2 linked regions of the Homo sapiens genome follow. The protein of the gene in region 2 interacts with the protein of the main gene of each other region in a pairwise test. Each region holds a gene or a part of one and is shown on either strand. Other genes may lie near its edges.

What was found.
Region 1: the proteins of SIX4 (region 2) and EYA2 interact in a two-hybrid assay, tested with the Homo sapiens proteins (one study listed by BioGRID).

Annotation. Positions count from the first base shown.
Region 1 is NC_000020.11:47,068,506-47,084,379, reverse strand, and holds part of EYA2 (protein phosphatase EYA2), read right to left. Parts: intron 12,196-15,874; coding exon 12,128-12,195; intron 10,223-12,127; coding exon 10,045-10,222; intron 1-10,044. UniProt on the Homo sapiens protein: Functions both as protein phosphatase and as transcriptional coactivator for SIX1, and probably also for SIX2, SIX4 and SIX5.
Region 2 is NC_000014.9:60,715,438-60,732,119, reverse strand, and holds the start of SIX4 (homeobox protein SIX4), read left to right. Parts: upstream 1-7,768; 5' UTR 7,769-7,861; coding exon of another isoform or gene 7,862-7,864; 5' UTR 7,865-8,045; coding exon 8,046-8,908; intron 8,909-10,975; coding exon of another isoform or gene 10,976-10,997; exon of another isoform or gene 10,998-11,012; intron 11,013-11,674; coding exon 11,675-12,360; intron 12,361-16,682. UniProt on the Homo sapiens protein: Transcriptional regulator which can act as both a transcriptional repressor and activator by binding a DNA sequence on these target genes and is involved in processes like cell differentiation, cell migration and cell survival.

The sequences.
Region 1 (15,874 bases), on a different chromosome or scaffold from region 2:
TTGTAGAGACAGGGTTTCCCCATGTTGCCCACGCTGGTCTTGAAGTCTTGGGCTCAAGCAATCTGCCGTCCTTGGCCTCCCAAAGTGCTGGGATTAGAGGCGTGAGCTACTGCACAGAGCCAGCCTTTTTTTTTGAGACAAAGTCTCACTCTGTCGCCCAGGCTGGAGTGCAGTGGCGCAATTCTGGCTCCCTGCAACCTCCGCCTCCTGGGTTCAAGCGATTCTCCTGACTCAGCCTCCCGAGTAGCTGGGATTACAGGCACATGCCACCACACCCAGCTAATTTTGTATTTTTTAGTAGACACAGGGTTTCACCATGTTAGCCAGGCTGATCTCAAACTCCTGACCTCAGGTGACCTGCCTGCCTTGGCCTCCCAAAGTGCTGGGATTACAGGCATGAGCCACTGCACCTGGCCCTGCCCATTTCTTTATCAGATTGTTTGCTTTCTTATTATTGGATTTTGAACACTCCTTCTATATTCTATATAAACACATGCTTTATTCGAGATATGCCTTGCAATTATTTTTCTCCTGGACCATGGATTTCTTTTCATTCTCTGAACAGTTTTAAATTTGTATGAAGTCCAGTTTATATTCTTTTTTTCTTTTTGGATCATATTTTTGGTGTTACATATGAGAAATCTTTGCCTAAATCAAAGTCACAAAACTGTCTCCTATGTTTTCTTGTAGAAGATTACAGTTTTATATTTAAGTCTATGATCTATTTTGCATTTTTTTTGTGTGTCATGTGAGGTATGAAGTATAGATAATCAGTTGTTCCACGATTTTTTTTTTTTTTTTTGAGATGGACTCTTGCTCTGTCACCCAGGCTGCAGTGTGGTGGCATGATCTTGGCTCACTGCAACCTCCACCTCCCTGGTTCAAGGGATTCTCCTGCCTCAGCCTCCCAAGTAGCTGGGATTACAGGTGTGCGCCACCAAGCCTGGCTATTTTTTTGTATATTTAGTAGAGACGGGGTTTCATCATGTTGGCCAGGCTGATCTTGAACTCCTGACCTCAGGTGATCCACCTGCCTTGGACTCCCAAAATGCTGGGATTACAGGCGTGAGCCACTGTGCTCGGCTGTTCCAGCATCTTTTGTTGAAAAGACTGTCCTTTCTCCATTGAATTGTCTTTTGTCAAAAATCAGGTGACCATATACATGTGGGTTAATTCATTTATTTACTGTGGAGACAGGGTCTTACTCTGTCATCCAGGCTGGAGTACAGTGGTATGATCATAGCTCACTGTATCCTCAAACCCCTGGCTGAAGCAATTCTCCCACCTCACCTTCCTGAGCAGATGGGACTGCAGGCACAACCCACTGCCTGGGTTATTTTTATTTTTTTGCAGAGACAGGGTCTTGCTATGTTGCTCAGGCTGGTCTCAGACTTCTGGCCTCAAGTGATCCTCCCTCTTCGGCCTCCCAAAGTGCTGGGATTACAAGCACGAGCCACGGCACCCAACCTATTTCTGAACTCTCAATTCTGTTCCATTGATTTATTTGTCTATTTTTATGCCAGTGCTGCATTGTCTTAAGTACTGTGGCTTTAAAATGGATTTTAAAATCAGGTAGTCTTAGCCCTCTAACTTTGTTCTTCTCTACAAAAGTCATTGTGGCCCTTCTTGGTCCTCTGCATTTCCATTTAAAGTTCAGAAACAGCTTGACAGTTTCTTAAAAAAAGCCTGAGATGTTGATAGAGATTGTATTAATCTTATAGCTCAATTTGGGAAGAGCTGGCATTTTAACAATATTAAGTCTTCTGATTCACGAACCAGGTATATATCTCCATTTATTAATGCCTTCTTTAACTTCTCTCAGCAGTTTTATAGGTTTTAGTGTAAAGTCATGCATATCTTTTGCCAAATTTAACCTTGAGTATTTCACATCTTTGATACTATTTCAAATGGCATTTAAAATATTCTATTTCCTGTTGTTTGTTGATTTTTAGATATTCACCTAGTACCCTGCAACACTGCTAAAGTTACTTTTTAGATCTAGTAGCTTTTTCATAGATTCCATCAGATTTTCTACATAGGTGACCAGGTCATTTTATCTCTTTACTTCATGAAGTTTTACTTCTTCTTTTCTTATTTTTAAAAAATTTTAAATTAAGTTAAATAATCATATCTTTGGATGAAAATTATTATATTTAACTGTCTGGGTTAAAGTGAGTTCTTAAATATATTTTCATTAATCATTATTTATATTTGCATGTTACTTAATAATTGGCAGGGTTGGCTGGGCACAGTGGCTCACGCTTGTAATCCCAGCACTTTGCGAGGCTGAGGCAGGTGGATCACCTGAGGTCAGGAGTTTGAGACCAGCCTGACCAACGTGGTAAAACCCCGTCTCTACTAAAAACACAAAAATTAGCCGGGCATGGTAGTGGGCGCCTGTAATCCCAACTACTCAGGAAGCTGAGGGAGGAGAATCACTTGAACCTGGGAGGCAGAGGTTGCAGTGAGCCAAGGTCACACCATCGCACTCCAGCCTGGGCGACAGATCGAGACTCTGTCTCAAAATAATAATAATAGGCAATGCACATTTTTTCTTTCTCTCTCTCTCTCTTTTTTTCTTTCTTCTTTTTTTTTTTTTTTGAGACAAGGTCTCGCTTTGTCACCCAGGCTGGAGTGCAGTGGTAAAATCTTGGCTCGCTGCAACCTCTGCCTCCCAGGTTCAAGTGATTCTCCTGCCTCAGCCTCCTGAGTAGCTGGGATCACAGGCGTGTGGCACCACGCCTGGCTAATTTTTGTATTTTTAGTAGAGACGGGGTTTCGCCATGTTGGCCAGGCTGGTCTTGAACTCCTGACCTCAGGTGCTCCACGTGCCTGTGCCTCCCAAAATGCTGGGATTACAGGCATGAGCCACCATGCCCGGCCTTTTTATTTCAATTTTCACAGCAACCCTGTAGATGATGATGATGATTTGTTAACTGGACAAATAAAAATTGTGTATATTTATGATGTACAACATATTTTGATATATGTATATATTGGGGATGGCTAAATCAAGCTAATTAACATTCACATATTTTTTATTTTTTTTTTACTAAAAACACTTAAAATCTACTCTCTCAGCAAGTTTCAAGTATATAACACTGATAGGGTTTGGCTCTGTGTCCCCATCAAATCTCATCTTGAATTGTAACTCCCACAATTCCCACATGTCATGAGAGGAACCCAGTGGGAGGTGACTGAATTATGATAAAGACATACCTGAGACTGAACAATTTACAAAGGAAAGAGCATTAATGGAGAACTCAGTTCCATGTGGCTGGGGAAGCCTCACAATCATGGCCGAAGACAAGGAGGAGCAAGTCCCCATCTCTACAAAAAATTTAAAAATTAGCTGCGCATGGTGGCACACACCTGTAGTCCCAACTACTTGAGAGGCTGAGGGAGGATTGCTTGAGCCCAGGAGTTCGAGGTTACGGAGAACTATGATCGTACCACTGCACTTCAGCCTGGGTGACAGAGTAAGACCTTGTCTCTTTAAGAAGGAGGGTCTTTCCTGCACTGTTCTTGTGATAGTGAACGAGTCTCGCAAGATCTGATGGTTTTAAGAAAGTGGCAGTTCGCCTGCACGAGTTCTCTCTTTGCCTGCTGCCATCCACGTAAGATGTGACTTGCTTCTCCTTTTTTTCAGCCATGATTGTGAGGCTTCCCCAGCCACATGGAACTGAGTTCTCCATTAAACCTCTTTCCTTTGTAAACTGCTCAGTTTCAGGTGTGTCTTTATCAGTAGCATGAAGATAGACTAATACAAATACCTTATTTATTAACTATAGTCACCATATTGTACAATAGTTCTTCTGAACTTATTCCTATTAACTGAAATTTTGTATCCTTTGACCAATCTTCCCTCCCCTCCACTCCCCTTTACTCCCTCCCTCCCTCATTTCCCTCCCTCCCTCCCTCATTTCCCTCCCTCCCCCCTCCCTCATTTCCCTCCCTCCCTTCCTTCACCTGATACCTGTGGTAATTGTGTCTTCTTTTCTAATTCAGGTATTTCGTGCTGTAAGTTTCCCTTTAAGTACTGCTTTAATGACATTCCATAAATTTTGATATATTTGTTTTCATTTTCATTCAGTTCCAAGTGCTTTTTAATTTCCCATTGATTTCTTCTTTGACCCATGGGTCACTGAAATGTATATTATTGAGATTCTGAAGATTTGGGAACTTCCCAAAAATCTTTCTGAAATTTATTTCTAATTTAATTCCACTGCTGTCAGAGAACATGCTTTGTATGCCTTGATTCTTTTAAAGGTACTGAAACTTGTTTTATGGCCCAGAAGATATTAATATTTATCTTGGTAAATGTCCCATGTGCACTTGAAAAGAATGTGTATTTGCTGCTGTTGGGTGGAGTGTTCTACAGATTGCCTGTTACATACAGTCTTTTCCTTTCACTCCAGATCTTGTTTTCCTCTCCAGAGAAAATGACTATTAACAGTTCTTATTGCATCCTTCTAGAAATTCCTTATGGAATATGAGTAAATATGGGTATTAAGCTACACTTAAACTTTTAAAAAACTCAGGCTCACATTACCCATGTAATTCTGCCTCCTGCTTTTTTTTTTTAACCTATCACAATAGCTCAAAGAGAAACCCATAGTAGCACAAATATATCTAACTTATTCTTTTTAACAGCTGTATAGTATGCTACTGGTGGATGCACCATGATTGATTTAACCTGTTTCCTGTTAATGGCATGGTATCCAGGTTGTTTCCAGCCTTTTGCTATGATGCTGCTGCAATAAATATTCTTTTTTAAAAAAATAAATATTCTTGATGTGACTGACTTAAGGACTTCGAGATGGGGAGATGATCCTGGATTCTCTGAGTGGGCCCAGTGGAATCACAACAGTCCTTATAAGGGGTCGGGGGCAGGAGTTAGAGAAGGAGATGAGACAATGTAAGTAGAAACTGGAATGATGCAGGGTCATGAGCCAAGGAAGGCAGGTGGCCTCTGCAGGTAGAAGGGCAAGGAAGTGATTCTCCTCTGGAGCCTCCAATACTATAACCCTGCTGACCCCTCAATTTTAGTTCAGTGAGAGCCATGTTGCATTTCTTACCTCCAGAACTGTAAAATATCACTGTGTTGTTTTAAGACACAAAGGTCATAATAATTTGTTACAGCAGCAAGAAGAAACTGATACAGTCTCCAAACATTTCTGATTGTACCATACTCATCAGCAAAAAATTTTCTACTGCACAGATCCATCATATATATTGTAGAGCAAACATAAACAGAAATTGAAAAGGATAAAGGGGATACAAGAAGTTTCAAAATGCATTTTTGTATGTATTTATGTACTAACAGTACAAAACCCTTGTGGTTATCACTAAAATTATTTGCATAATAGTATTAATAAATTTTTAATCAGTGAAAAAAATAAGTATTCTTTTTACTTAAGTGTTTGTACCTAGGTCAAAGTTTATCTTTCGGATAAATTCTTAGATGTCGAATAGTTGAGTTAAAAGGTCTATGCATTTTAAATTTTGTTAGATGTTGCCAAATTACACGGAAGAGCCTTCCCAATTTCTTCTTGAGAGATTAAAAAAATTCTTCTTCTCTTGGCAAAGGAAGTTGATCTTAGAAGTTAAAAAATCCTTCAACTTCTTTTTAGATAATTTGTATCATATTTAAAAATGTAAAAAGAAAAAAATCCTTAAGTAACCAATGATTTGGTTTTTCTCTTAAGTAACATGAGATGTTCAGATTCTGCCCTCTATATCAGCAAATTGCCCTGTAATCATCTGCAAATTGTTGGCACTTCACACACACATTAATGCATGTCAATGCAGAGTGTCCTGTGGCGAGGATGGGGTGCATGGGGGATGTGAGTGGTGAGAGCACCAAAATACTATATCCAGGCAGTGCACACAGTGAGTGTGATCTGTCTGTCAGTAAACCTCTAGAGCCTCTGGAGTTTGGAACCAACCACTCAAGGATATCCTGGATAATTTCAAAAGTAGAGTTTTTATGGGAAATTTAAAAAGAGTGCATGAATGTGTGTGTGTGTGTGTGTGTGTGTGTGTGTGCGCGCGCGCGCGCACGTGCACATGTGCACACACATATGCTTAAATTCCTTTACAGTGAACACTAGGAAAAAGAGGCAGGAGACCTCAGCTACAGCTGACCATTATTTACGTCATTAGATTTTATGTCAGCTTGTTAGACACACAGTAAAAACCATCTCAACCACTTACTGTTGAACCTTTGATCAAGGGATAAAGGAAGAACAGAGGGAAACAAGACAGAAAAATTTCAAAGACACAATGAGCCTTTATATTCACTCCTGATGGGAATGAAGAGAACCTTCCCACAAAACTCAAATTCTGGGGAGGTAAGTTTTTCGTTTGCCATTCAGTTCACCATTGAATTATAGACGGATAGTGGCATCTACTCGATGGTTTCCTGCTTATAGTTCCTCTCTGCCCTAATTTCTCATCAATGTTTTGTTTTTATCTCCTTTGTTGAAATGAGATCGGAAGAACCACATTCTGAAAATCAGGATGGCTAAAGATAATTCAAGATGATGACAGAGAAAAACTTTGTTAAACTTCAAACTCTTCAAAGAAAGTTATTAAATAGGTACTATGCATCATTAAATATTCTGGGATGAGATCACAATGACCAAAATCAATGCTCAAGCTCTAAACCTTTTAAAAAGTTGACTTTATTTAACATGCTTTGCCATATTGTCTCCATTTGTCATCAAACCAAGGATAACTCACTCATTCCCAGTGATGGAAAATTTAAGGGCTAAAATCAATAGCCACACCAAGAACCCCAGGAACAAAACAGGTGGGTCTTCCCTATTGTTCCTTTTCTAACAATCAACCAATTAATATTTGTTGATGACTGTCTCCACACCATCGTGCTAGCTTAGCTTCTGCAAAGCCCTACAGCATCAGTAGGTTTCAGAAAAGAAGACAAAGGAACGAAACTCAGTGATATCTACTGACATTCTAACGTATTGCTGCCATGTTATTTAATGTTGATAAGCCAAAACCACCTTGTAAAAGAGAAGATGTGCATAGCAGGTCTGGGGAATGAATGAATGAATCCACAGGCTGGTGCATTAGTTGCATAGGGATGTTACATACTAAGTTCTGTGACCACAGAGGGGTCAGGACATGGACTCTGCCACATGTTGCTCATAGTGTAGGTGGCATCCATATCAAGGTTGTGGACATTTATTGTTTTTGCTCACCCATTGTCTCTTCTGTCTTCTTGTAGTTACAATGCTCTAGGTTTTTTGAGGTGATCACCTCTTCCTCACTCTCAGTCCCTGGTGGTTGAGGTGAGGCTGACCCCAACTCTAGCTCCAGCCGTAGGCATGAGCCCAAAGTCTGCTGCTTCATCCCAGCATTCCATTCCACTGACCACAGAGATTGGTTTGGGGATGAGCATGTGACCTAAGCTGGGCCAATGGGAGCTTTACTTGGGACTTTTGCAGGAATGGCTAAGAAGGAGGAACTATGTTTGCTGGGATGGATTAGCAGACAGGATTGAGCTCTGGGTAGCTGGTGGCCATCTTTGCCACCATAGGGGAGGAGCTTGCCTGAGAACGGAACGAACCCAGGAAAATTCAGAGCCAGAAGGAAGAGAGAAACTAAGTCTCAACATTGTCATTGGAACACCTGGACCTAGCTCTAAACCCCTGTACATCTAGGTTAGATATGCCTAAAAGTTCATTTGCTTTTTCTTAAACTAGTTTGAATTGGATTTTCTATGTCTTTTGAAGCCAAAAAATCTTGGCTAATCAAAAGGGTTTCCTAAAACTATTGTGCCATCAGAAACAAACATCCTTAAAGATAACCCGATTAAAAAATGGGCAAAGGACATGAACAGACACTTCTCAAAAGAAGACATACATGCAGCCAACAAGCATATGAAAAAATAATATCACTGGTCATTAGGGAAATGCAAATCAAAACCACAATGATATACCATCTCACACCAATCAGAATGGCCATTATTAAAAAGTCAAAAAATAACAGATGCTGGCAAGGTTACAGAGAAAAGGGAATGCTTATACATTGTTCATGGGAATGTAAATTAGTTCAGCCACTGTGGAAAGCGGCCTGAAGATTTCTCAAGGAACTTAAAATGAAACTACCATTTGGATATATACCAGCAATCCCATTACTGGGTATATATCCAAAGGAATATAAATTTTTCTACCATAAAGACACATGCATGTGTATGTTCATTGCAGCACTATTCACAATAGCAAAGACAAAGAATCAACCTAGATGCCCATCAATGGCAAACTGGATAAAGAAAATGTGGTATATATACACCATGGAATACTACGCAGCCATAAAAAATAAGATCATGTCCTTTGAACCAACATGGATAGGGCTAGAGGCCATTATCCTAAGTGAATTAACACAGGAACAGAAAACCAAATACCACATGTTCTTACTTATAAGTGGGAGCTAAACATTGAGTACACATGGATACAAAGAAGGGAACAATAGACCCAAGGACCTACTTGAGGGTAGAGGATGGAAGGAAGGTGAGGACTGGAAAACTACCTAGTGGGTATTGTGCTGATTATCTGGGTGACAAAATTATCTGTACACTAAACCTCCACGACATGCAATTTACCCATGTAACAAACCTGCATGTGTACCCCAAACCTAAAATACAAGTTGAAAGAAAAAAAAAATGAACATGCTTAAGGATGTTTTGAAGGATTGTATAATTCTTGAGGACCCTGAGTCGCTATACTTGAACCCCTCTTAGACAAAGAATCAACATTTGAAAGCCTCTGCCCTTCTGTTCTCAAACGGATTTTAGATAACATATTCCTGGCCGTACACAGCCAGGCTGTGTACACAGTTCCTGGCTGTGTATGGCCAGTGCATAGCAGGAGTGCTGGTTATGGGGGCCAACAAACTGGGATTGGGATCCTAGCCCCACCAATCACTAGCAAGCTCCTTATCACTCTCATCTTCATTGTTCTTATCTAGAAAAAGGGTGGGGATAATATAAACCTGTTTTTGTGAGGATTATGCCTCTCCTTATCACAGTTTGTAATGAGATATTTGTATGATTATTTGATTCCTGTCTGCAAAGCTTAACTCTACACTGCACTTTATTTCCCAAACTAAAGGGAGGGCCTGGAATGCAGTGGGAGCTTACCAAATATTTGTTGAATAAATATATAAGTAAATGATTAGAGAAGACCACACAGGTATGTGCTCAGCACGAAACAGATGGGTATTTTATTTATTTATTTAATTTTTTGAGATGGAGTTTCACTCTTGTTGCCCAGGCTGGAGCGCAATGGCGCGATCTCGGCTCACTGCAACCTCCGCCTCCCAGGTTCAAGCGATTCTCCTACCTCAGCCGCCCTAGTAGCTGGGATTACAGGTGCCTGCCATGACTCAGGCTAATTTCTGTATTTTTAGTAGAGATGGGGTTTCATCATGTTGGCCAGGCTGGTCTCGAACTCCTGACCTCAGGTGATCCACCCGCCTCAGCCTCCAAAAGTGCTGGGATTACAGGTGTGAGCCACCGTGCCCAGCTGGTAATATTATAAATACTACCAGGGTTCATCAACTCCAAGGCCTACATGGGCCAGGCAGTAATGAACATGGGGTAAGCTAGCTAGATGTGGAATTGGGTGTGTCCTTTCTAAAAAGAGCAGACACACTTAGTTTTAACCAAGTGGTGTTCCTTGGGAATGTGGCTACTATGGCCAGATCTTCTTTCAAAAGAAGCCAGAAAATAGAATTTTTAGGTATTTATAAAATTTTCTGACTTTTAAACGTAAATGCAATTAAACACATGCACAAACAGGCCAACAAAACATGTCTGAGAGATGGATTTAGCCCTTGGGAGCCTGTTTGTGACAACTGGGACCCATATCCAGGTCCCTCCTTCAGAGAAGCTCTCAGGCCACATCCATGAATGACCCTTGGGTAACCTGTTTGTTACAATTGGGACCCATGTGCGGGTCCCTCCTTCATAGAAGCTCTCAGACCACAGCCATGAATGGCCCCACCAGTGACTGCACCTACCAGCAAGTGACTCGGAACTCTGGTTGGGGACGTTGTGAGATGCCTCCTGGAGGACGTAGGTGGACGTGGAGAGGGGCGAAGGGCAGATGCTGCTGGCCGGGACGTAGGGAGGGTTGTAGGATGAGCCGTAATACTGGGGGTACTGGCTCTGGGGGAAGCCGGGGTAGGAAGGATAGTCCTGGGAAGAGAAAAACAAACCAAGGACATATGTGAGGAAGCCTTTCTGGGCTCGGGCCGTTGGTCAGCCTGGCCACTCTGTCTCACCATTAGAATAAAAGCTCTCTGTGGGCAGAAACTGTCTTCATTTTGGTTTCCCAGAAGCAGACCCCGGGGCAAGGATTCAAGTGCAAGGAGGCTGTTTGGAAGGTGAAGGAGACACCAGCAGGGGATCGGGGAAGTGAGAGAGATGCGGGAGAGCAGCCTGCATAGGTGCTTCTGTGGTAGTGACCAGAGATGAGCCCTATGAGGAAAAGCTGAGATGGTCTAAAATCCACATCTCAGAACTGCCTCTCCCACGGGTCAAGGGAGTGGAGGGGTTTATACATCAACTTGTTGGTCTTTGAGAGCTGCACCCAGGGGGCTTTAATTCCCAGGCACTTCCTGCCTGCCCCGTGCACTGGTTCTAGAAAAGCCCCTTGGGCCCAGGCATGCAGATGCTGGCACCTGGAGGTCCACAGGCCACCCTAAGGGATATAGACGTGGCCCTGATGGCACCTGTCCTGGTCACTATTGTATCCTCTGCACCTGAAACAGTGCCTGGTATATGCAGTAACTCAACAAATACTGGTTAAATTAATAAACAAATGCATTAACAATTAAGACCACACTGCACCCCCCCCCCACGACACACACACAAACCTAGAAGACCGCACACACACCCACACGACACACAAACCCAGGAGACTAGGTGACATTTTATGTTCATGGGGAGGAGGTGCAAATACAGCAGCACCTACACAGCATTAGGGGTCCAGAATATTCTATGAGGGAGTCATGGAGATCAATTCAATAGCTGCCAATCACCTTTGATCAAGCTTTGTTTAAGCAGACCAGCGATCCCAATTCTCCAACAGTCATTGTTTCAAATATCCTGCCGCACTATCACCAAACCAGTGCTTCTCAACCCTGCACGGAACTCATGGAACGTTCTGCTTCCTGGGCCCCACCCCAGAGCTGGGAGTCAGAGTTCCTGGGGGTGGGGGTTGCGGGGGTGGTCAGTGTTTTTGAAAAACACAGATTTAATGGTGAAATGGAGGGTTAAGAACCACATCTTAAAAAGTACTGTTTTATTTATAAGTATTTTATCTATGTACATAGTACATTAGAAATAATGCAAAAATACATGAAACAATTTTTACATTTGCTAAGTTTTAAATTATTTAGATTCTCACTGGAAAAGAAATTGCGTATTCCTCAGATCTAAATATGTTAAATATTCCTAAAGCCCATCTACCCCAGGGTGGTTCTGTTTTAAATGGTAGCCTGAAAGCAGGTGAACCTTTTGTTTTGAAATAATTTTAGGTGTACAGGGAAGGTGTACACACAGCAGAGTTACTGCACACTTTGAGCAGATGCGAACTCTTAATTCACTTTGTAAGTGACACCAAGAGAATCAAAGTACTAGCCAACATTTACCTATATAGAGTTGACTTTGCTCTATTTAACAAGTATTTATAAAGCCCCCACTGTGTGCTGGGCTCTCACCACTGGGGATGCAGAGGTGAGCAAGATATACGGTCCCCCTTGAGAAGCCCATGGTCTGGTGAAAGAACCCACCCATTTGTATTGATATATATCAGATTCAACAGTCAATGGGTGTCCTGAGTCCAGGTCAAGATGGAACATACTTGTAGATCTCCATGACATCTCAGGAATCTTCTAACAATTCCTACGTCTCCGCCTGTATACTGTGTCCTTCCAGCAGCCTTTTGCACAATCTAGCCCCTGTAGTCTCCAAACCCAGGGACTAAGAGGCAGGTTCCCAATGGGGATTGTGTGTGTCGTGGGCTCTCTGGGTGCCCTGATGTAAGGGGAATATTTCCAGAAAGAACTGAGGAAAGAATCGGGAGGGAGCCATGTCTACCTGGTGCACACTCCCGAAACCGGCTGCGTTGCCCAGTCCATTTCCTCCTTGATAGAACCCTGTTGTGCCTGTGGGAAGGAGGAACAGGGGTACAGGTTAGGGTTCTTGTCTTTTTTTCTCTTTAAAGCAGTTGTTAGCATTTCATGAACCTCCCTCCATGTGGCTTCAAGGGTGACAGCTGGGCAGAAGCTCTGGTTCCTAGTGGTAATGCCTCACACCAGCGTTCCCAAAGCAACCCAGGTGAGACTTGTTGACACTAATCCTCTGGTGACGCCTACCACCAGCATCACCACGGCCTCCTGGGTGCTTCCAAGTGCTTGCTGATGCGGCCGTGGCTATGGCTCACGTGACCCCTAAGTCTCTGGATCTTCCTCTGTCCGGATGGCATGTTGGCGGCCCAGACCCAAGAGCCAGGTTAGGTTTCTTACAGTCGGAGAGGAACATGCAGGAGGAGGGTACCATGGCCAGGTGGGGTCTTTGAGGTCTGACAGGCTGGGATGGAACCTGTGACTTTGGTTACCAAATTTCTCTGAACCTCAATTTCCTGGATAGATGAAGAAAATAAACGGTGTCCTTTTCAAAGGGCTATGGTGAGAAATAAGTGAGATAGTGCCCACTACCCAGATCCTGGTCCTTAATAATTATGTTTTTAAAAAATTTGAGGCCAGGTGTGGTGGCCTCAGATTTTTCTGTAATTCCAATGCTTTGGGAGGCTGAGGTGGGAGGATCACTTGAGCCCCGGAGTTTGGTCATTTAAGTGTTTCACTTTTTAAAGAAATGGCCAAACTGTTTTCCAAAGTGGCTGTGCCATTTGCATTCTTACTAGGAATTCACGAGAGTTCTAGATTCTCCAGCACTTGGTAGTTTCAGTCTTCTTGATTATGGCCACTCTAGTAGTCTGGTCAACATAGTGAGATGTTGTCTCTACAAAAAAATTAAAACATTGGCTGGGCACAGTGGCTCACACCTGTAATCCCAGCACTTTGGGAGGCTGAGACGGGAGGATCAGGAGGTCAGGAGCTCGAGACCAACCTGGCCAACATGGTGAAATTCTGTCTCTACTAAAAATACAAAAATTAGCCAGGCGTGGTGGTGTGTGCCTGTAATCCCAGCTACTAGGGAGGCTGAGGCAGGAGAACTGCTTGAACTCGGGAGGCGGAGGTAGCAGCGAGCCAAGACTGTGCCACTGCACTCCAGCTCTGGGTGACAGAGCAAGACTCCATCTTGGAAAAAAAAAAATTCCAGGTGTGGTGGCGCATGCCTATAGTTCCAGCTACTTGGGAGGCTGAGGCGGGGGGATTGCTTGAACCTAGGAGTTTGAGGCTGCAGTAAACTACAATCTCACCACTGCACTCCAGCCTGCGCAACACGGCAAGACCCTGTCTCTAGAAAACAGTAAATAAAATAAAAAATAAAAATTATTTATTTAAAAAATTGTGGTATATATACAACATAAAATTTACCCTCTTAACCATTTTAAAGTGTACAGTTCAGTGGCATTAACTACATCCACATTATTGGGTACTCATCACCATCATTCATCTTTAGAACATTTTTCTTCTTGTAAAATTGGAACTATGTACCCATTAAACAACAATGCACAATGGCATAGATGTACAACATCCAATATTGGGCTATTATGGATAATGCAATATAAGCATTCACATACAAGTCTTTGTATGGATATATATTTTCATTTCTCTTGGGTAAATCCCTAAGAGTAGAATTACAGAGTTGTGTGGTAAGCATATGTTTACCTTTTAAAAGAAATGGCCAAACTGTTTTCCTAAGTGGCTGTGCCATTTTACATTCTGACTGGTAATGCACGAGAGTTCTCGATTCTCCAGCACTTGGTCATTTCAGTCTTCTTGATTACAGCCACTCTACGAAGTATGTGGTTGTATCTCACTGTGGTTTTAAGTAGCATTTCTCCAATGACTAATGGTGTTGGGCATTTTTCATGTGCTTTTTAGCCATTCACATATCTTCTTTGATGAAATATCTACTCAAATCTTTTTCCCATCAAACCCTAGTCAAATCTTTTTAAAAAATTAGGTTTGGCCTCTTATTACTGTTATAAGAGTTCTTTATATATCTTGGACACAAGTCCTTGATCAGATACATGATTTGTGAATATTATCTCCCAGTTTGTGGCTTGTCTTTTTCTTAATGGTGTCTTTTGAAGAGCAAAAGATTGTAGGTTGTTGATTTTTTTCTTTGATGCATTTTGCTTTTGTTGCCTAATTCAAGGTCACAAAGAACTGCTCTTGTGTTTTCTTCTAGAAATTTCACAGTATTCTTGTATTTAGGTCTATGATCCAATTTAAGTTAATCTTTGTATACAGTGTGGATTAAGGACTTAAATTCATCTTTTCATATATATATATGTGCATATATATGTATGTATATGTGTGTATATATACATATACACACACACAGTTGTTCCAGGACCACTATAAAAAGTCTATCCTTTCTCCCACTGATTTTATTATTTTTTAAAATTTTTGTGGGTACACAGTAGGTGTATATATTTATGGGGTACATGAGATGTTTTGATATAAGTATGAAATATGATATAAACACATCATGGAGAAGGGGTATCCATTTCTTCCCCCACTGAATTACTTGGTACATTTGCCAAAGATAAACTGACCATAAATGAGAAGGTTTATTTCTGGACTTTATTCTGTTTCACTGATTTATCTATCCTATACCAATTCCATCCTATCCTTATTACTGAAGCTTTATGGTGATTTTTTTTAAAAAACAGAATCTCGCTCTTCTCACCCAGGCTGGAGTGCAGAGGCGCAATCTAGGCTCACTGCAATCTCCGCCTCTCAGGTTCAAGTGATTCTCCTGCCTCAGCCTCCCAAGGGATTACAGGTGCCCACCACTATGCCCAGTTAATTTTTTGTATTTTTAGTAGAGATGGGGTTTTACTATGTTGGCCAGGCTGGTCTTGAACTCCTGACCTCAGGTGATCCACCTGCCTCAGCTTCCCAAAGTGTTGGGATTACAGACGTGAGCCACTGAGCCCGGCCTATGGTGAGTTTTGAAACCAGGTAGTATAAGTTCTCCAACTTTGTTCTTTTTCAAGTTTGTTTTGGCTTTTAGTTACTTTGCATGTCAGTTTCTACTAAACACCATCTGGGATTTTGGTAGGAATTGGACTGAATCAACAGACTTCTTTTATAAGATGAGGCCAGATTAAGAAAGTTAGGGCTGGATGCTTCAGGACCCGGAAGCCTGGAGCATGGTTTGCATCTGCTGAAGGGGCATGGACTGCTGTCAGAGGTTTTAAAGCAGCAACCGCACAACTGCAGGCACATCTCTAAACATTCACACTAGTTGCTGGTTAGAAAACAAATGGCTACTCAAATGAGCGGTGACTTACATCAAACAAGAAGCTTCTAGAGCCCACACTACTTTTTATAAAGTGGCTAAAATGAACACAATGGACTCCAGGAAACTTACTTCCTGGGGTGAGGTAGGAGAAGATAAGAGGATAATAAAGGAACCACAACACCTCTAAAATTATCCAAGATGATGGATCCATCAGAACCATAGGATCTCAACCCTTGTTCTGCATCAGAATCTCCCAAAGAACTTGAAACAAAAAACAAAACAGAACAAAAAAGCAGTCTGAGGGCCCTTCCCACAGAGAGTCTGATTTGAGTTAGTCTAGAGTTGGGCCAGGCATCAGTATATGAAAACAACAACAACAACAACAAACCTTTCTGGGAGATC
Region 2 (16,682 bases):
TTTTAGGAGAAAATAATTTATCAACCATAACATATAATTTTGAAAGGTTAAAAACACATTCGTCTCAACACAAAAATTCAATCATGCTTAAGTTCCTTCCAACGTGTTCATCCAAGGTGAACCTTCATATGTTTACAAATTCTTTTTCTTTATGAATTTTTGTTGACTAAGAACAAATTTTTTTCATTTTCTGAACTTCAAAATTATGCATTTTTCTATATGCTATACATATGAAACTTACGCTTCCTATGTATTGTTTTTGTTTTACTACTTTATTTTTTTTAGGTTTTTTATTATTATACTTTAAGTTATAGGGTACATGTGCACAACATGCAGGTTTGTTACATATGTATACATGTGTTGTGTTGGTTTGCTGCACCCATTAACTCGTCATTTACATTAGGTATTTCTCCTAATGCTATCCCTCCCCCATCTCCCCACCCCACGTCAGGCCCCGGTGTGTAATGTTCCCTGCCCTATGTCCAAGTGTTCTCAGTGTTCAACTCCTACCTATGAGTGAGAACATGCGGTGTTTGGTTTTCTGTCCTTGTGATAGTTTGCTCAGAATGATGGTTTCCAGTTTCATCCATGTCGCTACAAAGAACATGAACTCATCCTTTTTCATGGCTGCGTAGTATTCCATGGTGTATATGTGCCACATTTTCTTAATCCAGTCTATCACTGATGGACATTTGGGTTGGTTCCAAGTCTTTGCTATTGTGAATAGTGCTGCAATAAACATACATGTGCATGTGTCTTTATAGTAGCATGATTTATAATCCTTTGGGTATATGCCCAGTAATGGGATGGCTGGGTCAAATGGTATTTCTAGTTCTAGATCTTTGAGGAATCGCCCCACTGTCTTCCACAATGGCTGAACTATTTACACTCCCACGAACAGTGTAAAAGCATTCCTATTTCTCCATATCCTCTCCAGCACCTGTTGTTTCCTGACTTTTTAATGATCACCATTCTAACTGGTGTGAGGTGGTATCTCATTGTGGTTTTGATTTGCATTTCTCTGATGACCAGTGATGATGAGCATTGTTTCATGTGTCTGTTGGCTGCATAAATCTCTTCTTTGGAAAAGTGTCTGTTCATATCCTTTGTCCACTTTTTGATGGGGTTGTTTGACTTTTTTCTTGTAAATTTGTTTAAGTTCTTTGTAGATTCTGGATATTAGCCCTTTGTCAGATGAGTAGATTCCAAAAATTTTCTCCCAGTCTGTAGGTTGCCTGTTCATTCTGATGGTAGTTTCTTTTGCTGTGCAGAAGCTCTTTAGTTTCATTAGATCCCATTTGTCTATTTTAGCTTTTGTTGCCATTGCTTTTGGTGTTTTAGTCATGAAGTCCTTGCCCATGCCTATGTCCTGAATGATATTGCCTAGGTTTTCTTCTAGGATTTTTATAATTTTAGGTCTAACATTTAAGTCTTTAATCCATCTTGAATTAATTTTTGTATAAGGTGTAAGGAAGGGATCAAGTTTCAGCTTTCTACATATGGCTAGCCAGTTTTCCCAGTAGCATTTATTAAATAGGGAATCCTTTCCCGATTTCTTGTTTTTGTCAGGTTTGTCAAAGATCAGATGGTTGTAGATGTGTGGTGTTATTTCTGAGGCCTCTGTTCTGTTCCATTGGTCTATACATTTCTGAAGACAGCTGAATCCCAAAAGTGGAAAAATTGAGGCCCTTATTTCTCTTCCCAAGTCTGCTCATCCTCTAGCATTCCTACCTCAGTTAACAGTAGATTCTATGGGAATGGGACAGTGTTTCTCAAATGCAGACCTTCTTTTCCAGCCCCAAGGCTATGGACCCAGGTTGGGCTTTCCTCATCGGAAGAGGATACTTACTGTTTTCTCCCTTTACTAAGGACAGCATCTCTACTCCACTTCTTTTGGGAAATAGTCCTTAGTCCCTCACCCCACATGTATGTGGTTCTACTAGGTCTGTTAATCACAATGCCTGCCCCCTGGCACAGGGGTTGGCATGACACCTTTATTGGCTGTGAACTTCCTCAGGAACCAGAAACTCCGATTGAACTGGCCTAGGCAAAAAGTTGAATTTATTGGATCACAATATCAAACAATGTGAAGAGCAGGAGTGCAGCTGGCTGGACTTGAAGACCTGCTATCCCATTTCACTTGCCTCTGTCTTTCTCATCAGGTTAGTTTTCAAAGGAGCTTTCTCCAAAACCTTAGAAACATGGCTCCCAGTAGCTCCAAGCTCACATTTTACATTTTCATCAAAGAGGCTCTGCTGCTTTTCCCTTACTGCCAATTTGAACAATTCTTCCCTAGGCCAGTTCAAGTGGGGTCTCTGGATCCTGGGGAAATTCATATCACCATAAAAAAGTAAGAGTGCTGCTATGCTTGGGAGATGACTAGAATCTGGCACTCAGTCTCTGCCAGGATGTCTTCTCTCCACTGTAGCCCATGTGACTCACTAGGTCACTCTTCATCTCACCTACTGCTTATCAGTGTCCTAAACATGCAGATACCTTGATCACTGAGAATTCCCAAGCATTATTTCTAAGATTCCCTCTACTAGTCTTCCTTAATTCTTCCAGTACAAGTTTGAAAACTCCCAGCAAAAGATTCTGAGTGTTTTGGGGCAAGTGCCCATCTTGGGTCATCAATGGTGGCCATGATATGACACACAGACATCACCACTGTATATCCCACAGCAAACAGCATTTCATTCAAAGTCCATAATTTGTCTCCAACATGCCTTTTAAGCTAATAACCCACATTTACATACAACCCACACTCCAGACACACTGGATTACTATTTCAAAAATATACCACACACCTTCACAGCTCCATGCTTTTCTCATTCTGTTTCCTCTGCTTCTCATTAACCTTTATCCTTATCCTCTCAAAATTATTGTCCTTAAAGACCTAGCTAAAAATTCACTCCCAATTGCCCTCCTCCTCTCAAAATCAGACTCTTTATCCTCACCAATCCCATATCCTATATTGTTACTTATCTTTGTCTTATCTCCCCCACAAAATTTTAAGCTCCTCAGGAACAGAGACCTCAATATATTCGTCTTTCTATCCTTTGGTACCAAACCCAGTGCCTTGAACTTAAGGCTCAGTAAGTGTTTGGCAAATAAATGATCCTTCAGAAATATTCACTACATGTCATCAACCATCACTAAATAATAATGGATGGGAGATAACTTTAGAACCTAATTTCTCTAATACACTAATAGTACCAGTACATATGCTTTTTTTCCCCCTGGGACAGGGTCTCGCTCTGTGTCCAGGCTAGAGCTCAGTGGCATGATCATGGCTTACTGGAGCCCTGGCTCAGGTGATCCTCCCACTTCAGCCTCACAAGTAGCTAGGACTGCAGGTGAGTGTCACCACACCCAGCTAATTTTTGTATTTTTTGTAGAGATGGGGTTTCACCATGTTAACCCAGGATGGTCTCAAACTCCTGGACTCAAGCGATCCATTCACCTGGGCCTCCCAAAGTGCTGGGATTACAGGTGTGAGCCACCACACCCAGCCCAAACTCACTGATGAATGAAGAAATCTCCATTCTTGATGGCAAAACCATCAAATATATTCAAGCAAAGTGTAAAATTTTGTGCTGCACCTGATTTTCTTCAATATACTAAAATGGCCAAAGATTTTTACCTACACTCATCACTGTCTTCAAGCTGGAAGGAAAAGACACAGAACAAGCAGCTTGGTTTTTTGCTCTTCACTCTCACACAATCCCAGCCTCAATCCTGTTTTCCCAAATCACAACACAGATTGATTTTTATTTTTATTTTAGATTCAGGGGGTACACGTGTAGGTTTCTTACATGGATATATTGCACGATGTTGAGGTTTAAGCTTCTATTGAACCCTTCAACCAAATAGTGAACATAGTACTCAACAGGTAGTTTTTCAACCCTTGATCCCCTTCGTCCCTCCCACCCCTTTTGGAGTCCCCAGTGTCTGTTGTTCCCATTTTTATGTCCACATGTACCCAATGTTTAGCTTCTACTTTTTTTTCCCCCCTATCATCCAGGCAGCAGCCTCAAACTCATGGACACAAGCAATCCTTCCACTTCAGTCTGCCAGGTAGCTGTAACTACAGACGCTCACCACCATGCCCAGCTATTTTTTTTTTATTTTTTGTAGAGACAGGGTCTCATTATGTTGCCCAGGCTGTTCACAAACTCCTAGCCTCAAGCTATCCTCCCAGATTGGCCTCCCAAAGCACTGGGATTACAGGTATGAGCCACTGCACCCAGCCTAGCTCCCACTTATAAATAACATGCAGTATTTGGTTTTCTGTTTTGGATTAATTCACTTAAGACAACAGCTTCCAGCAGCAACCATGTTACTACAAAGGACATGATTTCATTCTTTTTTATAGCTGTGTAGTATTCCATGAGCAACACAGTTTTAGACAGCATATCAATACAACAGACTCAATGTTCACAGCATGGCACACATAGGAAGTAGAAGCAAGTATTCATCAATTTTACAACACATTTGGCAAAACCAGTGCTCTGGGATAAACTCTACACACCTTCAGGTCTAGTATTCCATTCCAATGTAACTGACCATGTTTGAGTCTACTTTGAATTGCTGGCAGAATGAGCTCTGAGTGTCAACTGGCTAAAGGAACCTGGATCTTGGTGTGGATTTCACAGCTGGTCCTACTGGAGGTATGGAATAGCAATGTAGCTAGCTACAGGCTACAGATGTCATAAAAAGCCACTGTTGCTTCTATATAATCTGTTGAACTTGATGCTCTAGAGGCAAATATACAGAAGACATGCAGAAGTGGTTTTCCAAGTCAATGCACTATATTTGATTGATAATAATTCTGAAGCAGACTCCTGTGACCTGGTTTGGGATGGCTCCAAACATAGCCAAAGGAATTTTCACTAGGTATATACAACTAAAAAGTCTCCTACTTTGCAATATCAGGAAGAAGATAACAAACATTTACCAAGGATTAATTACTCACCAGGTGCTTTCTGGCACATCTTATCTCATTTAATCCTCACAACAACTTAGTCGACTTTTTATAGTCAAGTAGCTAATAAATGGAAGAGCTAGGATTAAACCTGTGTCTAGCTATCTGATCCTCAAATCCACATCCTTTCCACTAAACCACACCATATCCTGTCTACTTTGTTCTGAGAAATGTGCTTTAAAATTTCAAGGAATTAAATGCAACATGGTCTCCTGGATTGGATCATAGGACAGAAAACAGACATTAATGAAAAAAAAAACTGGTGAAATCCAAATAAAGTCTAGAGGTTAGTTAATAGAAATGCGCCAATGTTAATTTGTTTAGATAAATATAGCATTATCATGTAAGATGTTAAAATTAAAGGGAACTAGGTGAAAGGTAAGTGGAAACTCTACTATTTTGGTAACTTTTCTGTAAATGAAAAGCATTCCAAATAAAAAATATATTTTTAAAAAAATTTGGCCAGGTGTGGTGGCTCATGCCTCTAATCCCAGCACTCTGGGAGACTGAGGTGGGCGGATCACTTGAGGTCAGGAATTTAAGACCAGCCTGGCCAACATGGTGAAACCCCATCTCTACTAAAAATACAAAAATTAGCTGGGTGTGGTTGGCAGGTGCCTGTAATCCCAGCTACTCGGGAGGCTGATGCAGGAGAATCACTTGAAACCAGGAGGGGCAGGTTGCAGTGAGCTGAGATCATGCCACTGCACTTCAGCCTGGGCATCAGAGAGAGACCCTGTCTCAAACAAAAACAAACAAGCAAACAAAAATTCAAGGAAGTTCTGAATCTCAGTTATTGTCCTGAAGCTTGGTACCTAACTGGATGTTTCCAGTGGAGTAGAAACACATGGTCTTGGCCGGGCGCGGTGGCTCACGCCTGTAATCCCAGCACTTTGGGAGATCGAGGCGGGCGGATCACGAGGTCAGGAGATCGAGACCATCCTGGCTAACACGATGAAACCCCATCTCTACTAAAAATATAAAAAATTAGTCGGGCATGGTGGCACGCGCCTGTAGTGCCAGCTACTCAGGAGACTGAGGCAGGAGAATCGCTTGAACCCGGGAGGCAGAGGTTGCAGTGAGCCAAGATCACGCCACTGCACTCCAGCCCGGGCAACAGAGTGAGACTCCATCTCAAAAAATAAATAAATAAATAAATAAATAAATAAGCAAATAAATAATATGGCCTTTTCTGTTGTTATAAATTTTAAATCTACCAGCGATGTCAACACATTAGGGTAATGCAAAAACAAGTTAAATCCTACATCAAATGACATCTTGATTGACCAGCAATAAAATAAAGCCTGTCTACAAAAAAAAAGAAAATCTCACCAAGTTTATCATGACGGCAGGTGACCTAGACAGCTGCTTTGTAATATGCTGAAGTAGGCAGCTATGAGTAGCTGGGAAGCATACACAATACAAGGCCACCCTGAAGCAAAGGTTAGGATGATGTCATTAAAATGTTGAATTTTGAGAGGCCGAGGCGGACGGATCACGAGGTCAGGAGATCGAGACCATCCTGGCTAACGTGGTGAAACCCCGTCTCTACTAAAAAATACAAAAAAAAAAAAAAAAAAAAAATTAGCTGGGCGTGGTGGCGGGCGCCTGTAGTCCCAGCTACTCGGGAGGCTGAGGCAGGAGAATGGCGTGAACCCAGGAGGCGGAGCTTGCAGTGAGCCGAGATCACACCACTGCACTCCAGCCTGGGCGACAGAGCGAGACTCCATCTCGGGGGGAAAAAAAGTTGAATTTTGAGAAAGAGCAGCAGCAGGCAAACCCAACTGACCTACAGTAATCAAAGAAGCAGAAATGGATCATCCCTTTTGGAATTAAGATCTTGTGCAAATTACAAAGGAAAGAGACACAACTGCAAACAACAAAAGACTCTACCCCCACTTCAGCATCAAACCAGAGGGCAATCTGTCTATGCTGTGGAAAAGGGCTTCTGATCCTGCACTGATCTGGATGACACCCGCACATTCAGTGTTTCTAGCCTATCATCGTTAAAAAAGAAATACTCATATACTTACATTAAAAAGTTCATGTAGAAAACTTAAATTTCCATATTTAAAGCTTAGATCTCTTCCACACGACTCATCCAGGATAAACTTATGGTTTAATATTCTACATGTTTAATTATACCATGTTCAACTCAGTTGGGTTGCCAGCCCTCCACGTGGCTTAAGGTTAAGTACATTTTTTGAAGGCTTCTTGTTTTTGTCTTCTCAGTGTGCTATTTATGCTGCTAATTATAAGGTTTTCAAGCATTTTTCCCTCTTTGGAATTTTAATTTACTGTAAATGCTTGCCCCTTAGAACATTTCCTAGTGTCATTTTATTTTTGACCGTTTTGAATACAAAATCCTTGATAAAGACATCCAAAAAGAGGGAGAATGGGGAACAGGGACATACTGGGGGGCTTCTGAATTGTCCTCTGAAGTTTTGTCATCTAGATGCTGAGGGTGGTCTCTTTGTTAAAAATTTAACCATCCAGACCTTAAGGCCACACAATTAATATTCCCTCTGGAATTGTAGGGCCTCTGTTTGAAAGAGTTGTCCAGTTTTCAGGCCACATTAGGTAATTTCCCGCCCAGGAGCGTGGCTTGGAAAGAATGTCGGTGTTTTCCTTCAGGTATAGGTGCCTGGGGGTCAGGAGGGGAGGGAAAGGCGAGGGGTGGAGTGGGAGGCGGGTGATCGACAGGGATAGAAACTGTGTCTCCTCCTCCCTCTGAATGCGAAATAGCCAATGAGGTGGCTAGGCCGGGCCGGCCCGGCCGCCACTGCCATATAGTATGCAGCAACCGGAGGAGTCACGTTGGGGGAACGGCAGAAAGCAGCTATCCGTTTACACTACTTTGCTCTAACAGCTATCTTAATGGTGACTGCGTGGCCGGGGGGAAACCTGATCGGCCAGATACAGCCGAAACCAGGAGGGAGGGAGTGGGCTTTCCGGAGGGGGAGAGGAGGGAGGGAGACGAAGGAGGAGGAGTAAGAGAGGAGGAAAGAAAGAGGAAAAGAGTGCGAGGGAGTGAGGGAGGGAGGAAAATAAACAACAAAAAATGTCCTCTTCCTCCCCCACCGGGCAGATCGCAAGTGCGGCGGACATCAAGCAAGAGAATGGGATGGAAAGCGCCTCGGAAGGGCAGGAGGCGCACCGAGAAGTGGCGGGGGGCGCGGCGGTAGGGCTGAGCCCCCCGGCTCCAGCCCCTTTTCCCCTGGAGCCGGGGGACGCCGCGACCGCTGCCGCCAGGGTGAGCGGAGAGGAAGGGGCAGTGGCGGCGGCGGCGGCCGGAGCGGCGGCGGATCAGGTACAACTCCACTCGGAACTTCTGGGCAGGCACCACCACGCCGCCGCCGCCGCCGCGCAGACCCCGCTGGCCTTCTCGCCCGACCACGTCGCCTGCGTGTGCGAGGCACTGCAGCAGGGGGGCAACCTGGACCGCCTGGCCCGGTTCCTGTGGTCCCTGCCCCAGAGCGACCTGCTACGTGGCAACGAGAGCCTGCTGAAGGCGCGGGCGCTCGTGGCCTTCCACCAGGGCATCTACCCCGAGCTCTACAGCATCCTCGAGAGCCACAGCTTCGAGTCGGCCAACCACCCGCTGCTGCAGCAGCTCTGGTACAAGGCGCGCTACACCGAGGCCGAGCGAGCCCGCGGCCGGCCGCTGGGAGCCGTAGACAAGTACCGGCTGCGCAGGAAATTCCCCCTGCCCCGCACCATCTGGGACGGCGAGGAGACGGTGTATTGTTTCAAGGAGAAGTCGCGCAACGCGCTCAAGGAGCTCTACAAGCAGAATCGCTACCCTTCGCCCGCCGAGAAGCGGCACCTGGCCAAGATCACCGGCCTCTCCCTCACCCAGGTCAGCAACTGGTTCAAGAACCGCCGGCAGCGCGACAGGAACCCCTCCGAGACCCAGTCCAAAAGGTGAGCGCCAACTTTCCTCCTCCTCCCCCTTCCTCTCCCCCACCCCCTTCCCGGCTTTCTTTTCCTCCAAGTGCTCGCAAACATGGCGCTTACCTTCCCCACCAGCCTGGTCCGGCTGCCCACCTCTCCCCGCCCCCTACCTCGCTCCCCGGCCGGCAGAGGTAGGGGGCGGCGGAGGCGGGGGGCGGGGGAACCTCCCTCCTTACCCTCCCCCTCTCCCCCCAGAAGTTTCTGGTCGCCCGCCTAGGTCTCAGTCCCCGCCCCCACCTCGGCTGGTCACTGCTGCCCAGCTTCCCACCCCCATCCCGCTGGCTTTGAAGTTGCCACCCTCTCCCCGTTTCTGGAGGGGCTAACGAAGCAAATGTGGACACCGGCACCGTAGCTCTCCCTGCCGCCCGAGGCCCGCAGAGACTGCCGGCGCCGGCCGGGGTCTGCACCTCCGCGAGGTCACACCGGGCCTGGCGCGCGCGCACGCTCCCGGATCCCCAGGGTTCAGCCGCCCCCCGGGCCTGCGCTGGAGGTCGCGGTGGCTGCTCTGGTGAAGGGAAGAGAGTGTTGTGGGACTGGCGGCGCAGAAGGGGTCTCGGAACGTCGAGGTTTCATATGACAGAGTTAATCATTCACCCTGCCCCTATGGTTCCCTTAGCGGCCGCGGCAACGTGGGGTGCTGGTGCAGCTCGGCTCTGTCATGTTTTGAAACCTGATTCTGAACTCCTTAGGATCGGGTTTCAGCGCAGCCGGGGTAGCAGGGCTGAAGGGCTGCTTCCTCCCTCGGCCCCCGAACGCTGCTTGGCTCCCTCCTGGTACGGTAGTTATGGGTGGGGGGCAGGCCGGCTTACGGCGGGCGGCAGCAAAGGAGTGGGGGCGCTCCCACCCCACTGGGTTTGAGCTTTTTGCCTGGCAGACTGCTTTCCCCCTCTGGTAAAAAAAATACCGGATTTTCCACCTCTTTTGTGCGTCCTCCCGAGTCAGACACTTGGTGTGTGCGTCTGTGTGTTTTGTTGGACGAAACAAAGTAAGGAGAAGGTCGCCTAAAGACCTGGTGTCTCCAGCCCCGCGGGGATAGGAGAGAAAGAATCCAAAAGCAGCTCGAAGGTTCTTCTCGGGGAAGCAAACTGGGAGCCGGGGATCCAGCCCGCCTGCGCCAGGTGAAGGTGATCACCAGCGCATTCCAGAGCCGGTCTCAGCCCGCCCTTGCCGCTTCTGGGCCCCTGTGGGGGTCCGACGGCTCGGGCTCCGGCGTTCCTCGCCCAAGGCTGGGAGGGAGGCTTGGTGCCCTATCCGGCCCTCGCGGTAACCAAAACAAAAGGTGCACCGGGATGTGCGTGCGCCTTCCGCAGATATGCGGAGAGGTCCAGAGAAGGCGCTTTGGTTACGCCGAGCCACCTGCCCTGCGCCCACTAGAGGCCGCGGATCCCGCGCTCGGAAACCAACGGAATCCGCAGGGCCGGGGCAGAGGGTGGCAAGGGGGCACCGCGAGCAGGCCAGCTGCTCCGCCGCCTCCGCTCGCGAGCCGGGCACGCTCCCTGGGACTCCCCCACGCTCCACTGCTGGCTTCTTCGTCCCCCCCGCCCCACCCCATAAACTCCACACCCACCCCGCCGCCGGCCCAGTTGCCTGGTTTAGGCCCCTCTCCGGATCTACCTCCCACCCGCACCCCCGGTGAGTCACCCTCGCAGACGGCGACGGCGGCTCAGCCTCAGCTTGTAAATCAAAGCGCTTTCTGCGCTCCTGGCCCCGCAGCCCAAAGCCCGGGTAATCCCCTCCCCTCGGCATGAAAGCGAACCGACCGCGGGGCACTGCGGGGATGTCGGATCCTCTGCTGGGCCAAGTCCTGCTGCGCTTCCAAAACGCCTCTGTTCTGCTCTCGTTTGCTCTCCCTCCCAGCCTCAGACCAAATGGGAAACCCCATCACTACCCACCCCCCAACCCCGATTTGGTATTTCTCCCAAGTCAGAGAGCTGAGGAACAGGGTCCTGCCTGGAACAGAGGGACCAAGGACGTTGGGGAAGAGGTCTAATAGTTAGAAGGCCTCTGAGTGACACCCTTTCCCTCCCACCTCACCAGGGCACTGGATGGTGTTTGTTAAATAGGCCCCTTTGGCTTCCTTTGGATTCAAAGGCGACTGCACATAACTGTTCTTGGGTTGAAAGTGCCTTTTCCTACAACAAGGACAGCCACTTTGTTGAATGAGAGAGTTGTCAGTCTGGTGGAGTAGAAGTTTGGGAGCAGGTGAGAAAACGATCTCTTGTTAACTAACTGACCAAAAAAGAAAAGCTGAGCACTTCCTACCTCCTGCTCCTTTGGCAGCTTCATTTACCTCCAAGATAACACTAATCTGAATTGGTTTGAGGGGAGGGGAAGGAGTTCCTAAACAGGAAAGACCGACCACCTCATTTAAGGTGTTTTTTTCTATGGTGTCAGTAGCAGCATATGTAACAGTAAGGAATAGCACTTCTACACTGTAAAATCAAATATGTTCTTCTCCTGTAATGCTGAATTTACATCTTGCAGATGTCTGGACTTTCCCTGAATTTATTGTTATTTTAAATGATTGGGATCTGAGAGTTTATCTTCCCAGATTCTCTGGCTGGTCGGAATCTGCTGAAAGGCCTCTTAGTTTAAATAGGACTAGCAGATATCCTGCTGTGCTTTCCTTAAATACTGCCTTTAATGGATTTAGAAGCTGGTTTTCCAAACAAGTGGCACTGTGTAGAATGTCATCCCCCTGACCTTCTGAACATTTTGATTTCCCCCTCCATACAGTGAGTCAGATGGCAACCCCAGCACTGAAGATGAATCCAGCAAGGGACATGAGGATTTATCTCCTCACCCACTCTCCAGTTCATCTGATGGCATCACCAACCTCAGCCTTTCCAGTCATATGGAGCCAGTATATATGCAACAAATTGGAAATGCTAAGATATCATTAAGCTCTTCTGGAGTTCTGTTGAATGGAAGCTTGGTACCTGCAAGTACTTCACCTGTCTTCCTTAATGGAAATTCTTTTATTCAGGGACCCAGTGGAGTTATCCTTAATGGATTAAATGTGGGAAATACACAGGCAGTGGCATTGAACCCACCAAAAATGTCATCAAACATTGTGAGCAATGGTATATCCATGACTGACATACTGGGGTCTACTTCCCAGGACGTGAAGGAATTCAAAGTCCTCCAGAGTTCTGCTAACTCAGCAACCACCACGTCCTACAGCCCCAGTGTCCCTGTCTCATTCCCAGGCCTGATACCCAGCACTGAGGTGAAAAGAGAAGGCATTCAAACAGTGGCTTCCCAAGATGGAGGGTCTGTAGTGACTTTTACTACACCAGTGCAAATTAACCAGTATGGCATTGTCCAGATCCCCAATTCCGGAGCAAACAGCCAGTTCCTTAATGGGAGCATTGGATTCTCTCCACTGCAGCTGCCCCCTGTGTCAGTGGCAGCTTCACAAGGTAACAATCTCATTTGGTACCTTAATGCACCAGCAAATGTGTTCATCAGCTGCTGTAAGTGACGCATTTGGTGATAGCTATAGATTGATGTTTCTGTTCAGGTACCTTATTAGCTGCCGAAGCTGTAGAGTAGCCTTGATGTGATTCTCCTCTTTCACAATACCCATGTCATATCCAGGTTGCTTTATTCCCTTGCATCATGAGGATGGGCTTTTATTTTACTAACAACTGAATGGAAAAATACAGTTCATAGCAAGTCCTGCCAGTTCTACAATTACAGAAATATGATAAGTCAATCAGTGCTTACAAAATAACTCACTGCTTGGCATTTTAATATTAAAAATTAATAAAATTGCTAAGAACACAAAATTAGTCTAGCAGTTGGTAAGAATGCATACACTTTACCTAAGCATTATTTATTTGACCAAAAAATGTTTTAGAAGAACAAGCTAAAAAGACCGGATCAATTATGTTTGAATCCTGTTTCCTCCTATAATGAAGACTAACAGACCTAAAAGAAAATCAGAGGAATATGCCATTGGATTTCTATCGCTCAGCATATATACTAACCCCCTAAATGTGTGGGTTTATTTGTGAAGATAATAGTAAGCCTTATTTTATATGTTTGTGGCTTTACTAACAGCAATCTTCCAGAGAAAGCACTTAAATGAAATTCAGGAAAACTGAGGCTGATATATTAGTTCTTCACTGACTTTAAGCAAGCCTGGATCCTCTATGTCATTTTCTCTTTAAAGAAATAGAAATGGTTAGAATTTGGCAGTGGAGTTTGCATAATCCCTTGAATTCAGGAAGGGTAGATCTTAATGCACGTTTGCCTTCTTGTAGACAAATCTGAAAATCCAGATTTTTACAAAACCAAAGTAGTAATTGTTGGCTTTAAAGGTCTGCTTCCTATAAGATGGTTTTACCACCCCCCCAAAAAAATCAATTTATGCACAACTCTCTTGTTACCACAACTATGGTCTATGTCAGCTTATTGAAGGAATTAATGGAAAAATTGTTCTAAATTTCATTCTGTACATTTGCATTTCTTTAGGCAAAATGGTACTAAAACAAGACATTCCTGCAGCATACTATTCAGTTCATCATTGTTCCAAGTTATGGAAAGAGTTAAGTTACTATCTAACATAGGGCAAAAATATGAAAACCACAGGGAAAGCCAAAGTGCTTAGTTTGATAATAATTTAATGTGGATCTAACCCCTTTTCTCTCATTTGGAAAATTTCCAAACAGGTCACATTTTAAAGGCAACAAATTTGAGCAGAAAGAATGAGTTATGTATGTTGGGGGAGGAGAAAAGTAGAAATACTTTTAATTGTGTAATCTAGAGGAGCACTGCCATAGAAAATTATTATGAACTAATAGCTGAGTTTTTAAATGGGACATTTAATAGGAATAAGAATAGCATTTTCAGTTAAAATAAGTAAGATCAAATCTTAGACTGTCTGGGTGAGTTGAACAGACAGTCTAAGTTTAACCAGATAGTTAAGTTTAATCCAGTAAGCAACATTTCTATGGTAGTTAGGTATTGCAGTTCTCAATAAAACATTTTGGGGATTCAGTTTTTTCTCACAAACAGATACTGAGCCATTCTTTAAAATGTCTTGACAAGATAGACTTATCTTTCTATAGTTGGGATTTATGTGGAAAAGTAGAATATCTACATCTTTTACTCACTTTACAGTCTGAGCAACTAAGATTATTATTATTATTATTATTATTATTTTTAGGCGGAGACTCATTTTGTCACCCAGGCTGGAGTACAGTGGCGCGATCTCGGCTCACTGCAGCCTCTGCCTCCCGTGTTCAAGTGATTATCCTGCCTCAGCCTCCCTAGTAGCTGGGACTACAGGCGTGCATCACCATGACCGGCTAATCTTCGTGTGTTTAACAGAGAGAGGGTTTTGCTATGTTGGCCAGGCTGGTCTTGAACTCCTGTGATCTGCTCACCTCAGCCTCCCAAAGTGCTGGGATTACAGGCATGAGCCACAGCGCCTGGCCTGATTTTTTTCTTATCATTACAAAGTAATGCTTTGTATCTATATGGTTTTTCAGTTGGATTTTTTTATCTTAAAATTGTTGTTCAATTTTTACTTCAGTTGTAGTTATGCTCAAAAATCAAATTTTAGATCAAATTCTCTTTTATATATGTTATAATTTCTACAAATTCAGAAGTATTTATATTCAGTAGCAGTTGGGGAAAATGTTGCATGTATTATGCTATTTATGGCTCTATAAAAAGATAACTAATCATTTTGTTCATGCATACATTGGCAAACAATTTCATAAACATACACACAATAAACTAAACATCTATTTGAGATGTTTTTTTGCCACAAATCAGCTGCCTACAAGAATTTTAAAGACGCCGGGCACAGTGGCTTACGCCTGTTAATCCCAGCACTTTAGGAGGCTAAGGCGGGTGGATCACCTGAGGTCAGGAGTTCCAGACCAGCCTAACATATTGAAACCCCGTCTCTACTAAAAAAAACAAAAATTAGGCTGGCATGGTGGCACATGCCTGTAATCCCAGCTACTTAGGAGGCTGAGGCAGGAGAATCGCTTGAACCCAGGAGGTGGAGGTTGCAGTGAGCCGAGATCACGCCATTGCACTCCAGCCTGGGCAACAAGAGCAAAACCCCTTATCTCAAAAATAAATAAATAAATAAATAAAAATAAGAGTTTTAAAGCATACTTAAGTTGAAGGCAGTGTTTTCAAATAAAAGCAGTTTTTTCATATGTGTGGTCTGAAACAGAAATGTAAGAGAATAACTGAAACATACTTAGAAATGTTTTTCTTAACACTGGTATTTCTGTGATTAAACTTTCTAGTTAAATGTTTTAAAAGGGTTCATATGCAGTGTTTTCTTTTTACTTGAAGACATTCCTTTGCATTAAAAATATTTGGAAGACATAAACAGCCCTGTGGCACTTATTTATCAATAGAGGTGATAATATAATCACAATATTCTAATACTTCAGGAAGGAAAATGTTTTAGGTGAATTAATTACCTTTAACATTGGGCTGCTCTCTCAAAAAAGTAGTTTACTGAGGCCAGATGTGGTGTCACGCCTGTAATTCTAACACTTTGGGAGGCTGAGGCAGGAGGATCACTTGAGCCCAGGAATTCCAGACCAGCCTGGGCAACATAGTGAGACCTCATCTCTACAAAAATTTTTAAAAAATTGGCCAGGCGCGGTGGCTCATGCCTGTAATCCCAGCACTTTGGGAGGCCGAGGCGGGTGGATCACAAGGTCAAGAGTTTGAGACCAGCCTGACCAACATGGTGAAACCCTGTCTCTACTAAAAATACAAAAATTAGCCAGGCATGGTGGTGCGTGCCTGTAATCCCAGCTACTCAGGAGGCTGAGTCAGGAGAATTGCTTGAACCCAGGAAGCGGAGTTTGCAGTGAGCCAAGATTGCACCACCGCACTCCAGCCTGGGTGACAGAGCGAGACTCTGTCTCAAAAAAAAATTTTTTTTTTAAATTAGCTGGGCATAGTAGTACGTACCTGTAGTCCCAGCTACTTGGGAGGCTGAAGTGGGAGGGATTGCTTGGGCCCAGGAGATCGAGGCTGCAGTGAGCCACGTTCACATAATCCCAGCACTTTGGGAGACCGAGGCTGGCAGATCACTTGAGCTCAGGAGTTCGAGAACAGCCTGGCCAACATGGTGAAACCCCATCTCTACTAAAACTACAAAAATTAGACAGGCATGGTGACATGCATCTGTAATCCCAGCTACTCAGAGGTTGAGGCAGGAGAATCACCTGGGAGGTAGAGGTTGCAGTGAGCAGAAATCGTGCCACTGCACTCCAGCCTGGGCAACAGAGCAAGACTGTCTCAAAAAAAAAAAAAAGAGTTGACTGAACATCTAATTCAAGATGAGGATAAACAGCCCACCTATCACAAAAGTTCCCCCAAATCTACCTTTCCTTCAGTGACCATATTTGAGGTCCTAGATTATCTAATTGCCATCATCTCATGCCTATGTAAGGAATCAGGAACAAAAGAGTGTTATTTGATGGTAGTGGGGGGTCTAATTCGTGTACATTGTCTAAGTGATCTGATTTGAACATCTCAGCTTTCTACTTAACATTTTTTTTTCTACTTCTGGTCTCTATAGACCATTATAGTAAGAGTCTCAAAAGATACAAACCTTTTAGAGAAGCATTAGCTCTGATCCTTTATGTTAATCTGTATTTTAAAAAGCACATTTCTTATTACCATTAATTGTTCCTATTACTACAACACTGAAAATTCAGAACTGGCACAACAAAAGGCAAAAAAGCTTTTGAAT